Homo sapiens: one gene and its partners. The protein of the gene in region 2 purifies or fractionates together with the protein of the main gene of each other region. This does not show direct contact. Each region holds a gene or a part of one and is shown on either strand. Other genes may lie near its edges. The genes, in order: MTHFD1, CNN1 and MTHFD1L.

The links.
Region 1: the proteins of CNN1 (region 2) and MTHFD1 fractionate together in Homo sapiens (co-fractionation; one large-scale study listed by BioGRID). This does not show direct contact.
Region 3: the proteins of CNN1 (region 2) and MTHFD1L fractionate together in Homo sapiens (co-fractionation; one large-scale study listed by BioGRID). This does not show direct contact.

The regions. Positions count from the first base shown.
Region 1 is NC_000014.9:64,412,321-64,415,970, reverse strand, and holds part of MTHFD1 (C-1-tetrahydrofolate synthase, cytoplasmic), read right to left. Parts: intron 3,500-3,650; coding exon 3,446-3,499; intron 614-3,445; coding exon 477-613; intron 333-476; coding exon 232-332; intron 1-231. UniProt on the Homo sapiens protein: Trifunctional enzyme that catalyzes the interconversion of three forms of one-carbon-substituted tetrahydrofolate: (6R)-5,10-methylene-5,6,7,8-tetrahydrofolate, 5,10-methenyltetrahydrofolate and (6S)-10-formyltetrahydrofolate.
Region 2 is NC_000019.10:11,545,285-11,548,934, reverse strand, and holds part of CNN1 (calponin-1), read right to left. Parts: intron 2,261-3,650; coding exon 2,194-2,260; intron 2,104-2,193; coding exon 1,966-2,103; intron 1,139-1,965; coding exon 1,028-1,138; intron 1-1,027. UniProt on the Homo sapiens protein: Thin filament-associated protein that is implicated in the regulation and modulation of smooth muscle contraction. It is capable of binding to actin, calmodulin and tropomyosin. The interaction of calponin with actin inhibits the actomyosin Mg-ATPase activity.
Region 3 is NC_000006.12:150,882,671-150,886,320, reverse strand, and holds part of MTHFD1L (monofunctional C1-tetrahydrofolate synthase, mitochondrial isoform 2 precursor), read right to left. Parts: intron 3,560-3,650; coding exon 3,435-3,559; intron 688-3,434; coding exon 587-687; intron 1-586. UniProt on the Homo sapiens protein: May provide the missing metabolic reaction required to link the mitochondria and the cytoplasm in the mammalian model of one-carbon folate metabolism complementing thus the enzymatic activities of MTHFD2.

The DNA of each region.
Region 1 (3,650 bases), on a different chromosome or scaffold from region 2:
CTGTGCCTGGCCTGAGCCTATTTTCTTAGCAGTTGAACAATAACAGTACCTACTTCACAGAGTTGCTGAGAAAATTGAGAGAAAATTTAGGTAACATCCTTAGTAGACAGGCCCTTCTGCCAATCAAGTCCATTTATTTATGGCCCACAATGTACCTCCTCTATGCCACCACATGTCAAGACCAGGATTCAGGAAATGGTGCTTTCTTGTTGTTTGGTTTGTTGTTTTTACCTGTCTCTTTGATGAGTTCCAAGCATCCCTTAGGCGTACAAGGAATGAAACAGTCATTGAGGTCACCTCTAGCAAGTTTCCCAGCATTGATGCTAGTCAATCTTAAAAAAGTGATGGAAATAAGAAGGAAATAAAGGCAATTAGATGTCTTTACTCTTTAGAAACATTTATGCTGTATTCCCCAAATAGAAACATATTATAAATGAAAGCATGCAATGAGACATAGGAAGCCAAGCCACACTTACCCATCCACATCCTTCTCGGGTGCAATAGCATTGATCACTTCTTCAGTGTTAATGGAATTCTCTGAATCTAAAGGTAGCTGCACTAAGAACCCATGTACAGTAGAGTCTTCATTCAAAGATGTAATGTACTTCATCACCTAAAAGTAATACCATATATAATTTGTATATCACACAGAAATCAAAAGGTAGGAAGAAACACTTTCTAAGGCAAAAATTAGGTTGCCCTATTTCCCCCCAACACTTTAATTATAGTCCTTTCAGAATGTACCTTCCCCTTGAATCCTGAGAGCACCTGTACTTTAACATAGAATGCATCCCCTAGGTGTCTGGTAAGAAGTCCATCAAATAAAAGAGCTAAGAGGCTGGGCGAGGTGTCTCATGCCTGTAATCCCAGCACTTTGGGAGGCCAAGTCAGGAGGATTACTTGAACCCAGGAGTTCAAGACCAGCCTGGACAACACAGTGAAATGTGATATCTACAAAAACTTTTTAAAAATTAGGGCCAGGGGCTGGGTGCGGTGGTTCACGACTGTAATTCCAGCACTTTGGGAGGCTGAGGTGGGTGGATCACCTGAGGTTGGGAGTTTGAGACCAGCTGGGCCAACATAGTGAAACCCTGTCTCTACTAAAAATACAAAATTAGCCAGGTGTGGTGGCACATGCCTGTAATCCTAGCTACTCGGGAGGCTGAGGCAGGAGAATTGCTTGAACCTGGGAGGTGGAGGTTGCAGTCCGCTGAGATAGTGCCACTGCACTCCAGCAGTGAGTTGAGATTGTGCCATTGCACTCCAGCCTGGGCAACAATAGTGAAACTCCACCTCAAAAAAAAAAAAAAAAAATTAGGGCTGGGTGTGGTGGCTCACACCTGTCATCCCAGCACTTTGGGAAGCCAAGGCAGGCCTCCCAAAATATAGAAAATTATTTTCTATAATTTGCACCTTACAATACAATAGCAGCTACTGGATCACTTGAAGCCAGGAGTTTGAAACCAGCCTGGCCAACATGGTGAAACCCTGTCTCTACAAAAATATAAAAAATAAGCCGGGCATAGTGGCGCATGCCTGTAATCTCAGCCTCTCAGGAGGCTGAGGCATGAGAATCGCTTGAACCCAGGAAGCGGAGGCTGCAGTGAGCTGAGATCATGCCACTGCATCCAGCCTGGGCAACAGAGCAAGACTCTGTCTCAAAAAAAAAAAAAAAAAAAAAAAAGCGGGGACAGGTGCGGTGGCTCACGCCTGTAATCCCAGCACTTTGGGAGGCTTGAGTGGGCAGATCACTTGAGGTCAGTAGTTTGAGACCAGCCTGGGCAATATGGGCAATTAAAAATACAAAAATTAGCTGGGCGTGGTGGCGCATGCCTGTAGTCACAGCTACTCAGGAGGCTGAGGCATGAGAATCGCTTGAACCTGGGAGGTGGAGGTTGCAGTGAGCCAATATTGCACCACTGCACTCTAGCCTGGGCGACAAGAGTAAAACTCTGCCTCAAAAATAAAATAAAATTAGCTGGGCATGGTGGCTCATGCCTATAGTCCCAGCTGCTCAAGAGGCTAAGGTGGGAGGATCACTTGAGCTTAGGAGGTTGAGGCTACAATGAGCTATGATCACACCACTGTGCTGCAGCTGAGGCAAAAGAGTGAGACCCTGTCTCTAAAAATACAATACAATAAAATAAAAAGAGCTAAGAACTCTAATAACTTATTACAGCAATAATACCCATGTTACAATCATCCAAATCAAGATGTAGAGCAGCAATGTCCAATCATCTTTTCTGCGATGGCAGAAATTTTCTATAATTTGCACCTTACAATACAATAGCAGCTACTTAATCCTTGCAAAGTGGCTAGTACAACCAAGGAAGTGAATTTTTAATTTTATTTCATTTTAACTAAATTCAAATAGCCTCATGGGGCTAGTGGCTCCCATACTGGACAGCGCATATATGGAACATTGCCATAACCTCAAGAAAGTTGCTTTATCCTCCTACAGTTTAGCATTAATCTCCCACCTACAGGCAACCACAGTTCTGACTTTAATCACCGCTGATTTGTTCTGCCTAGTCCTGAACCTCATATAAAAGGAATACATATTTGGTTTTTAGAATGCAGATAATTACAGGCCAAGGATCGGTTTTACCTATTTTTTTGAGACGGAGTTTTGCTCTTTTTTCCCAGGTTGGAGTGCAATGGTACGATCTTGGCTCACTGCAACCTCCGCCTCCCGGGTTCAAGTGATTCTCCTGCCTCAACCTTCCAAGTAGCTGGGATTACAGGCATGCGCCACCACGCCTGGCAAATTTTGTATTTTTTAGTAGAGACAGGGTTTCTCCATGTTGGCCAGGCTGGTCTCGAACTCCCGACCTCAGGTGATCTGCCCACCTCGGCCTCCCAAAATGCTGGGATTACAGGCATGAGCCACCGTGCCTGGCTCCAAGGATCAGTTTTAACAAACACAACAGATGATTTGGAAGCAAACAGTACTGCAGTCACACTTTGAGTACCAAATGTTCATCCCTGCACCATCTCCTCTGTGGGAGTCTGTGAAGAAAGAATACCTGGAGGTGCCAGGCGTGGTGGCTCACGCCTGTAATCCCAGCACTTTGGGAGGCCAAGGCGGGTAAATCACCTCAGGTCAGGAGTTCAAGACCAGCCTGGCCAACGTGGTGAAACCGCGTCTCTATTAAAAATATAAAAATTAGCCAGGTGAGGCGGTGGGCGCCTGTAATCCCAGCTACTCGGGAGGCTGAGGCAGGAGAATTGCTTGAACCTGGGAGGCGGAGGTTGCAGAGAGTCGAGATCGCATCATTGCTCTCCAGCCTGGGTGACATGAGCAAAACTGTGTCTCAAAAAAAAAAAAAAAAAAAATACCTGGAGGTCTTGGCTAAATGTGTCAGTCCCCAAAGCCCCCGTAAACCAAAACCAGAGAGGAAACCACTTCACCTTCCCTCTTCACAATCAACTCATAAAAGCTCACCTCAGATTCTGTGGTTGTTCTTGGTAACTTAATGTGAGTGGCTTTGATCCCAATCTGCAAAACAGACATTAAAAGCAGGTAAATGGCAAGACAACTTGAGATATTGAACCATTTCTTTTACAGACATGACTAACAAGCAAGGAGGTGTTGGTCATCATTTCACCCTTATATGTTCTGAAGAATGAGTCCCTCACTTCAACCCATT
Region 2 (3,650 bases):
GATTACAGGGGTGAGCCACTGTGCCTGGCCCATTTTTTAGTTTATTTTTATATTTTATTTTGTTCTATTCTATTTTTTTGTTTTATTTTATTTTATTTGAGATAGCATCTCACTCTGTCGCCCAGGTTGGAGTGCAGCGGCACAATCTTGGCCCACTGCAACCTCTGCCTCCTGAGTTCAAGCAATTCTCCTGCCTCAGCCTCCTGAGTAGCTGGGACTACAGGTGTGCCCCACCACACCGGCTAGTTTTTGTATTTTTGGTAGTGACAGGGTTTCACCACGTTGGCCAGGCTGGCCTTGAACTCTTGACTTTAAGTGATCCGCCTGCCTCGGCCTCCCGAAGTGCTAGGATTACTGGCATGAGCCACCATACCCAGCCCATTTTCATTTTTAGAGACAGGGTCTCACTCTGTCGCCCAGGCTGGAGTCCAGTGATGCAATCATTGTAACCTTGAACTCCTGGGCTCAAGTGATTCTCCCACTTCAGCCTCCTAAGTAGCTGGGACCACAGGCAGACACCACTGCATTTGGCTAAACTCTTAAATTTGTTGTAGAGATGGCGGTGGAGGGGGGTTCTATTTTGCCCAGGCTGGTCTGAAACACCTGACCTCAAGCAATCCTCCTGCCTCAGCCTCCCCAAGTGCTGGAATTACAGGTGTGAGCCACTGCACCCCGCCTGAGGCATCCTTTCGAGACTGGAAACTGAGGCCCAGAGTGGGCCTATCACATGACTGACTTCTAGCATTGAAGTTCCAGCCTGCCACGCATCAGCTGGAAGATCTGTGCAAAAGCGAGCCAGCTTCTCCGGGTCTCAGTTTTCTCATCTGCGGAAAGGGTATGTTGATAACAAGCACCTGTCTGCTGGGGTGTTGGCAGAGTGAGTGAGTTTGTGAATGGAAGATGAGCATAAGCACAGTACCCGGCCTATAGTATAGTTAATGCCAAATATCCTGTCCCCAAAAGCCTTCAGACATCAGGGTGCCCTCCTGGCCTCTATGACCTCTGCGCAGTGAGGACAGGGCGGTACCTGCAGCCCAATGATGTTCCGCCCTTCTCTTAGCTTCCCCGGCTCGAATTTCCGCTCCTGCTTCTCTGCGTACTTCACTCCCACGTTCACCTTGTTTCCTTTCGTCTTCGCCTAGGTGGGGCAGGGAAAGCAGGGACTGACAAGGGGGCCTCCAGGCTGCACAGTCCCCTTGGACACTGTTTTTTTGTTGTTGTTGACACAGAGTCTCGCTCTGTTGCCCAGGCTGGAGTGCAGTGGCGTGATCTCAGCTCACTGCAAGCTCCGCCTCCCGGCTTCACACCATTCTCCTGCATCAGTCTCCCTAGTAGCTGGGACTACAAGCGCCTGCCACCATGCCCGGCTAATTTTGTTTTGTAGTTTTAGTAGAGACAGGGTTTCACCATGTTAGCCAGGATGGTCTCAATCTCCTGACCTTGTGATCCACCTGTCTCGGCCTCCCAAAGTGCTGGGATTACAGGCGTGAGCCACCGTGCCCGGCCAACACTGTTTTTTGTTTTTTGTTTTTTTTTTTTTGAGACGGAGTCTTGGCTCTGTCACCCAGGCTGGGCAGTGGCACGATCTCGGCTCACTGCAGACTCCGCCTCCCGGGTTCAAGCGATTCTCCTGCCTCAGCCTCCTGAGTAGCTGGGATTACAGGCATGCGTCACCACGTCCAGCTAATTTTTGTATTTTTAGTAGAGACGGGATTTCACCATGTTGGCCAGACTGGTCTCAAACTCCCGGCCTCAAGCAATCCGCTCACCTTGGCCTCCCAAAGTGCTGGGATTACAGGTGTGAGCGACCGCGCCCGGCCCCCTTGGACGCTGTTGACAGCACCTGCTCCCCGATCCCTGCCCCCCGCTCCGCCACCTTCACTGGGCTCAGGAGCACAAGTGGCCACACCTGCATCCCAGCCCAGGCTGCCCACCACCCCCTGCCCAGCCTGCAACCACACTCACCATGCTGGCCAAAGCCAGGAGGGTGGACTGCACCTGTGTATGGTTGGTGTTCTCAAACAGGTCGTTGGCCTCAAAAATGTCGTGGGGCTTCACCCCATACTTGGTGATGGCCTTGATGAAGTTGCCGATGTTCTCCAGCTAGAGGGGGGCAGGTGGTGGTCACTGGGTGGGGAGGGGAGGTCTGAGGGGCTTGCGGGCAAGGATGGAAGAGATTGTGTCTGGGCTCACCTGGTGCCAATTTTGGGTTGACTCATTGATCTTCTTCACGGAGCCTGGCTGCAGCTTATTGATGAATCTGAGAAGAGTGGGGAAGGGGTAAGAAAGGTGTCCCCCCAGGGTTGGGCACGGTGGCTCACGCCTGTAATCCCAGCACTTTGGGAGGCCAAGGCGGGTGGATCACGAGGTCAGGAGAGCGAGACTATCCTGGCCAACATGGTGAAACCCCATCTCTACTAAAAATACAAAAATTAGCCAGGCGTGGTGGCACATGCCTGTACTCCCAGCTACTCAGGAGGCTGAGGCAATCACTTGAACCCAGGAGGCGGAGGTTGCAGTGAGCTGAGATTGCAGCACTGCATTCCAGCTTGGGGACAGAGCGAGACTCCGTCTCAAAAAAAAAAAAAAAAGAAAGAAAGGTGTCCCCCACTCCCGCTCTCCAGCCCAGCCCAGCAGGAGGAGGGTGACGGGATGACCACAAGGGGCCATGCCATACCCTAGCGTCACTTCTCCCTGCAGTCAGCTCTCAGCTGCAGCCCCTCCAAACCACCCAAGCACACACACAAATGGGACACTGATGCCAAGGAGCTAGACTCAGGTCCCAGTCAGAAAGCCTGCTTATCCAAGGTGTGTCCGAGTCTCTGGGATCTCCGAAGCCTCACTGGCAGGCGTGTCTCAGCATCCTTTTCTCTTGTAGACAGCAGGAAGCCCACAAGGGCCTCTTCTCTGACTCACTCCTTTAATGATCTCGCCTCTTTTTTCTTTTCTTTTCTTTTTTTTTTCTTTTTGATGCAGGGTGTGGCTTTGTCGCCCAGGCTGGAGAGCAGTGGTGCAATCACAGCTCACTGCAGCCTCAACTTCCCAGGCTCCAGCGATCCTCCCACCTCAGCCTTCCGAGTAGCTGGGATCACAGGTGCGCACCACCATGCCTGGCTTTTTTTTTTTTTTTTTTTTTGGTAGAGAGGGGGTTTCACTGTATTTGTATTGCCCAAGCTGGTCTTGAACTCCTGGGCTCAAGCGATCCTCCTGCCTCAGCCTCCCAAAGCGCTGGGATTACAGGCATGAGTGACAGCACCTGGCCTCATTCAGTGTCTTGACTTTAAGTGCCTCCATATGCCAGCAACTCCCTCATCTCCCTGCAGCTTGGGTTTCTTACCATCTCATTCAGCTCTCTCCATGGGTGCCTGGGTGTCTCAAATCAAACTCACCCTGCTCCAGACTCCTGACATGCAGCTTCCCCCTCCAGACTCCCCCCTCCCTCCACCTTCCCTGCCTAGCAGTGCCCCCTTCTAGGTGCTCAGCCAGAGCCCTTGGACTTGCCCCCAACTCCCCCTTTCTCCTTCTCTCAGCCTCATGTCCAGTCCCTCCAAAGTTCTTTGGCTCTGCCTTTTAATGAGTCCAGAAAACCACCCACTGCTCCCCGCCACCTCCACCTGGGTCTCAGCCACCAGAGTCTGTTTCCTGGCCTC
Region 3 (3,650 bases), on a different chromosome or scaffold from region 2:
GGGACTACACGTGCACACCACCATACCCAGCTAATTTTTAAATTTTTTTTGTAGAGACAAGGTCTCAGTATGTTTGCCCAGGCTGGTCTCGAACTCCTGGCCTGAAGTGATCCTCTGGCCTTGGCCTCGCCTAGCACTGAGATTATAGGCATGAGCCGCTGTGCCTGGCCTCATTTAAGTCTTCAACGTAAGTCTTATCTAAGGCTACATATTGATAGATTTAGTAAGCTGAAACTGGAAGCATATTTTACTGTGGTTATTTTGACTGTTTCATGAGAGAAATTGAGCATGTTTAAAACAGGGCTAATCGTTTATCTCTACTAATTTCTCTTTTAATTTATAAGATGGTCTTACTAGAAAAAGTTTCTAGGTATTCATCTGTATCTCCCAAAAGATGAGAAAAATAAAAAAAGTCAACGTGAAATATCACTTCTATGTTCAATTAGAATCTTCTAGAAACATCCTAAAAGGATATCAGAATAATAATTTAAAAAAATTTTTAATTCTTCCCCAAACAAATCCTTATTAAAAATAATGTAAATACCAATAAATAGAAATCAGCGGCATTTCTCAAGGAGCATCCTACCTGATTTTTCAAGAAGTTCAATTACAGCTTTGGCAACAGGTGAAACAAAACATTCATGGGCATCCCCTCGCACCAGCTTCCCCAGGTTTATGTCTGTTACTCTGAATCAGAAAATAAAGAAGTAGGTTAAGTCAAAGCCCAGCCAAAAAAATCACTCACGTGTAATGTACATATATTAACCCCAAATAACATCCAAGTCAATGTTTGATAGACAGAATACATAAAAATGAATTAAAGAGGACCAGGCATGGTGGCTCACGCCTGTAATCCCAGCATTTTGGGAGGCTGAGGCGGGTGGATCACATGAGGTCAGGAGCTCGAGACTAGCCTGGCCAACATGGCGAAACCTCAACTCCACTAAAAATACAAAAGGTAGCTGGGCGTGATGGCACGTGCCTGTAATCCCAGCTACTAGGGGGCTGAGGCAGGAGGATCGCTTGAACCTGGGAGGCAGAGGTTGCAGTGAGTTGAGATCATGCCACTGCACTCCAGCCTGGGCAACAGAGCGAGACTCCATCTCAAAAAAAAAAAAAAACCCATAAAAAATGAATTAAAGAGAAAGCAGGCAATAAAGGCCATTCAATAAAGGTCTTAGAAAATTCTAAGGCAGTACCTTAGGAAACTTCACCCTGGCCCTGACATTGGGTGTTCCGGTTCTGCCAATATACCAGGACACAGCCTAAAGCCATACAGGGCTTCACTTCGCAACTCCAGGGAGCTCCTTTCAATGGACCCCAATGGACTAGCATCCCTAGAGTTACACAGAAGCATGGTCCTGCAGTCCACTCAAAACCCAGAACCAATCCTATAAATCTGGAGTGACCCAGTAAGACCTGGGATTGAGGCACAGGTCACAGGTCTGATTTCAACTTGACCTCGATATTTATCTCCTTGAGAAGTCGGGGTGGGGGGCAGTGGAAAAAATGAGTGACCACACACTTCTGAAGGGTTCTGTGCCTTTCCCTGTTCAAATCTAGGACAAAACATTCCACAGCTATCTAGCCTAAACTGAGCACGTCAATCTCAGTAACAGAATGGAGACATTTAGAACCATTTTCGTAATTTCTCCTTTTACTCTCTGTTGTTTTTGTTTGGTTGGTTTTTCCTGGCTGGGCCTCAGCATGAATTCCCCTCCTTTTATGAAAGACTTGAAACTATGCCCTAGGACCTTCAAGTTCTGAAAGTTTTCTCATGGATTAGTGCTTCTTCTCCTTTTACAGTTAGTCTACGACAGGACTGGAGATTGTCGTTTTTTAAAAAAATGTTTAATTATTTACTTAAAAATAGAGACAAGGGGCCAGGCGCGGTGGCTCACTCCTGTAATCCCAGCACTTTGGGAGGCCGAGGCAGGCGGGTCACGAGGTCAGGAGATCGAGACCATCCTGGCTAACACGGTGAAACCTCGTCTCTACTAAAAGTACAAAAATTAGCCAGGTGTGGTGGTGGGCACCTGTAGTCCCAGCTACTCGGGAGGCTGAGGCAGGAGAATGGTGTGAACCCAGGAGGCAGAGCTTGCAGTGAGCCGAGATCGTGTCACTGCACTCCAGCCTGGGCAACAGAGTGAGACTCTGTCTCAAAAAAAAAAAAAAAAAATAGAGATGAGGTCTCACTATGTTGTCCAGGCTGGTCTTGACCTCCTGAGATCAAGAGATCCTCCTGCCTTGGCCTCCCAAAGTGCTAGGATTACAGGTGTGAGCCACTGTGCCCAGCCAGGACTGGAGGTGTTCATGACACCTTTTCAGCCTGTGTTTGGGTCTACTCAAGTCACAATAAAAGGCTAGAATGGAAGATTGCTGGGTGTCTCAGGAAGGTGGTAGCCTCCCCATCCAGCCCCTGCAGGGTCTACCGGATCTGGAATCTAACTTTATAAATCTGCTTACAACCTATAACCATTAACACATTGTGTTCTTTTTGGCCACAGTACAAAACACTTCCTATATTTCCATGGAGGAAAATGGGGTTTTAATCCCCAGGAAGCATGCTTATCCCCCACTGGAGACGGCCGGTATCCTTTGTTCTATGAAGCTTATGTCACTCCATGACATGAATCACAGGCCAACATTACAGCACCCAATAGTTATGATGTTCCCCTCCAAATTTCAAATAAAACCTTGTGTCATTAAGAAAAGTATTTATTTTGCTTTTCTCAACTGGCCTGGGACTAAGACAGAATATGGTACTGCTGGGGAATCAGGTTTCTAAGTTTTCTTCTCTGGTCTGGTAGAATTACCAAGGAAAAAACTATTAGAAGAATAGAGCTGGCTAAAGATTGTATAAGTCAGACCGGAATTTATTAAATGAATCTGATGGTGTAAGATCATATGGCATTGAAGCACTATAAAAGGGCTAATGTATTTTCCAAAATATGTAACTTTTGCATGCAGAATTTTAAAAGGCTACAGATGGCCAGACACGGTGGCTCACGCCTGTAATCCCAACATTTTGGGAGGCTGAGGTGAGTGGATCACAAGGTCAGGAGATAGACACCATCCTGGCCAACATGGTAAAACCCCGTCTCTACTAAAAATACAAAAATTAGCCAGGCATGGTAGCGCATGCCTGTAATCCCAGCTACTCAGGAGGCTGAGGCAGGAAAATCGCTTGAACCCAGGAGATGGAGGTTGTGGTGAGCCAAGATCACGCCACTGCACTCTAGCCTGGGCAACAGAGCGAGACTCCATCTCAAAAAAAAAAAAATCCTATAGACTCCTGAAATATTTAAAATGATTTTTTTATCCAATTACTGACACAGTTGAAATAAATAGAAGAAATTTAGAAAAATAAAAGCAGGCACAATAGAAAAAGTGATTTAGCCATAAAGGTTGATTATTTGATTTTATTTTCTTACCCATCCACATCTTTTTCTGGTTTCAAGGCATTGAGGACTTTGTTGCTAAACAAGTTCTCAGAGATCTGAAGGGCAAGGCCATGTACTCTGGTATCTTCATTGATCTTTAAGATTTCATCTATAATCTAAAGAGAAAACAAAAAAACAAAATAAAAATTAGTTTTGTGAAAATGAGACCCAACAAAGGAAGCTTTATATAAAAAGTGGATTCATGAA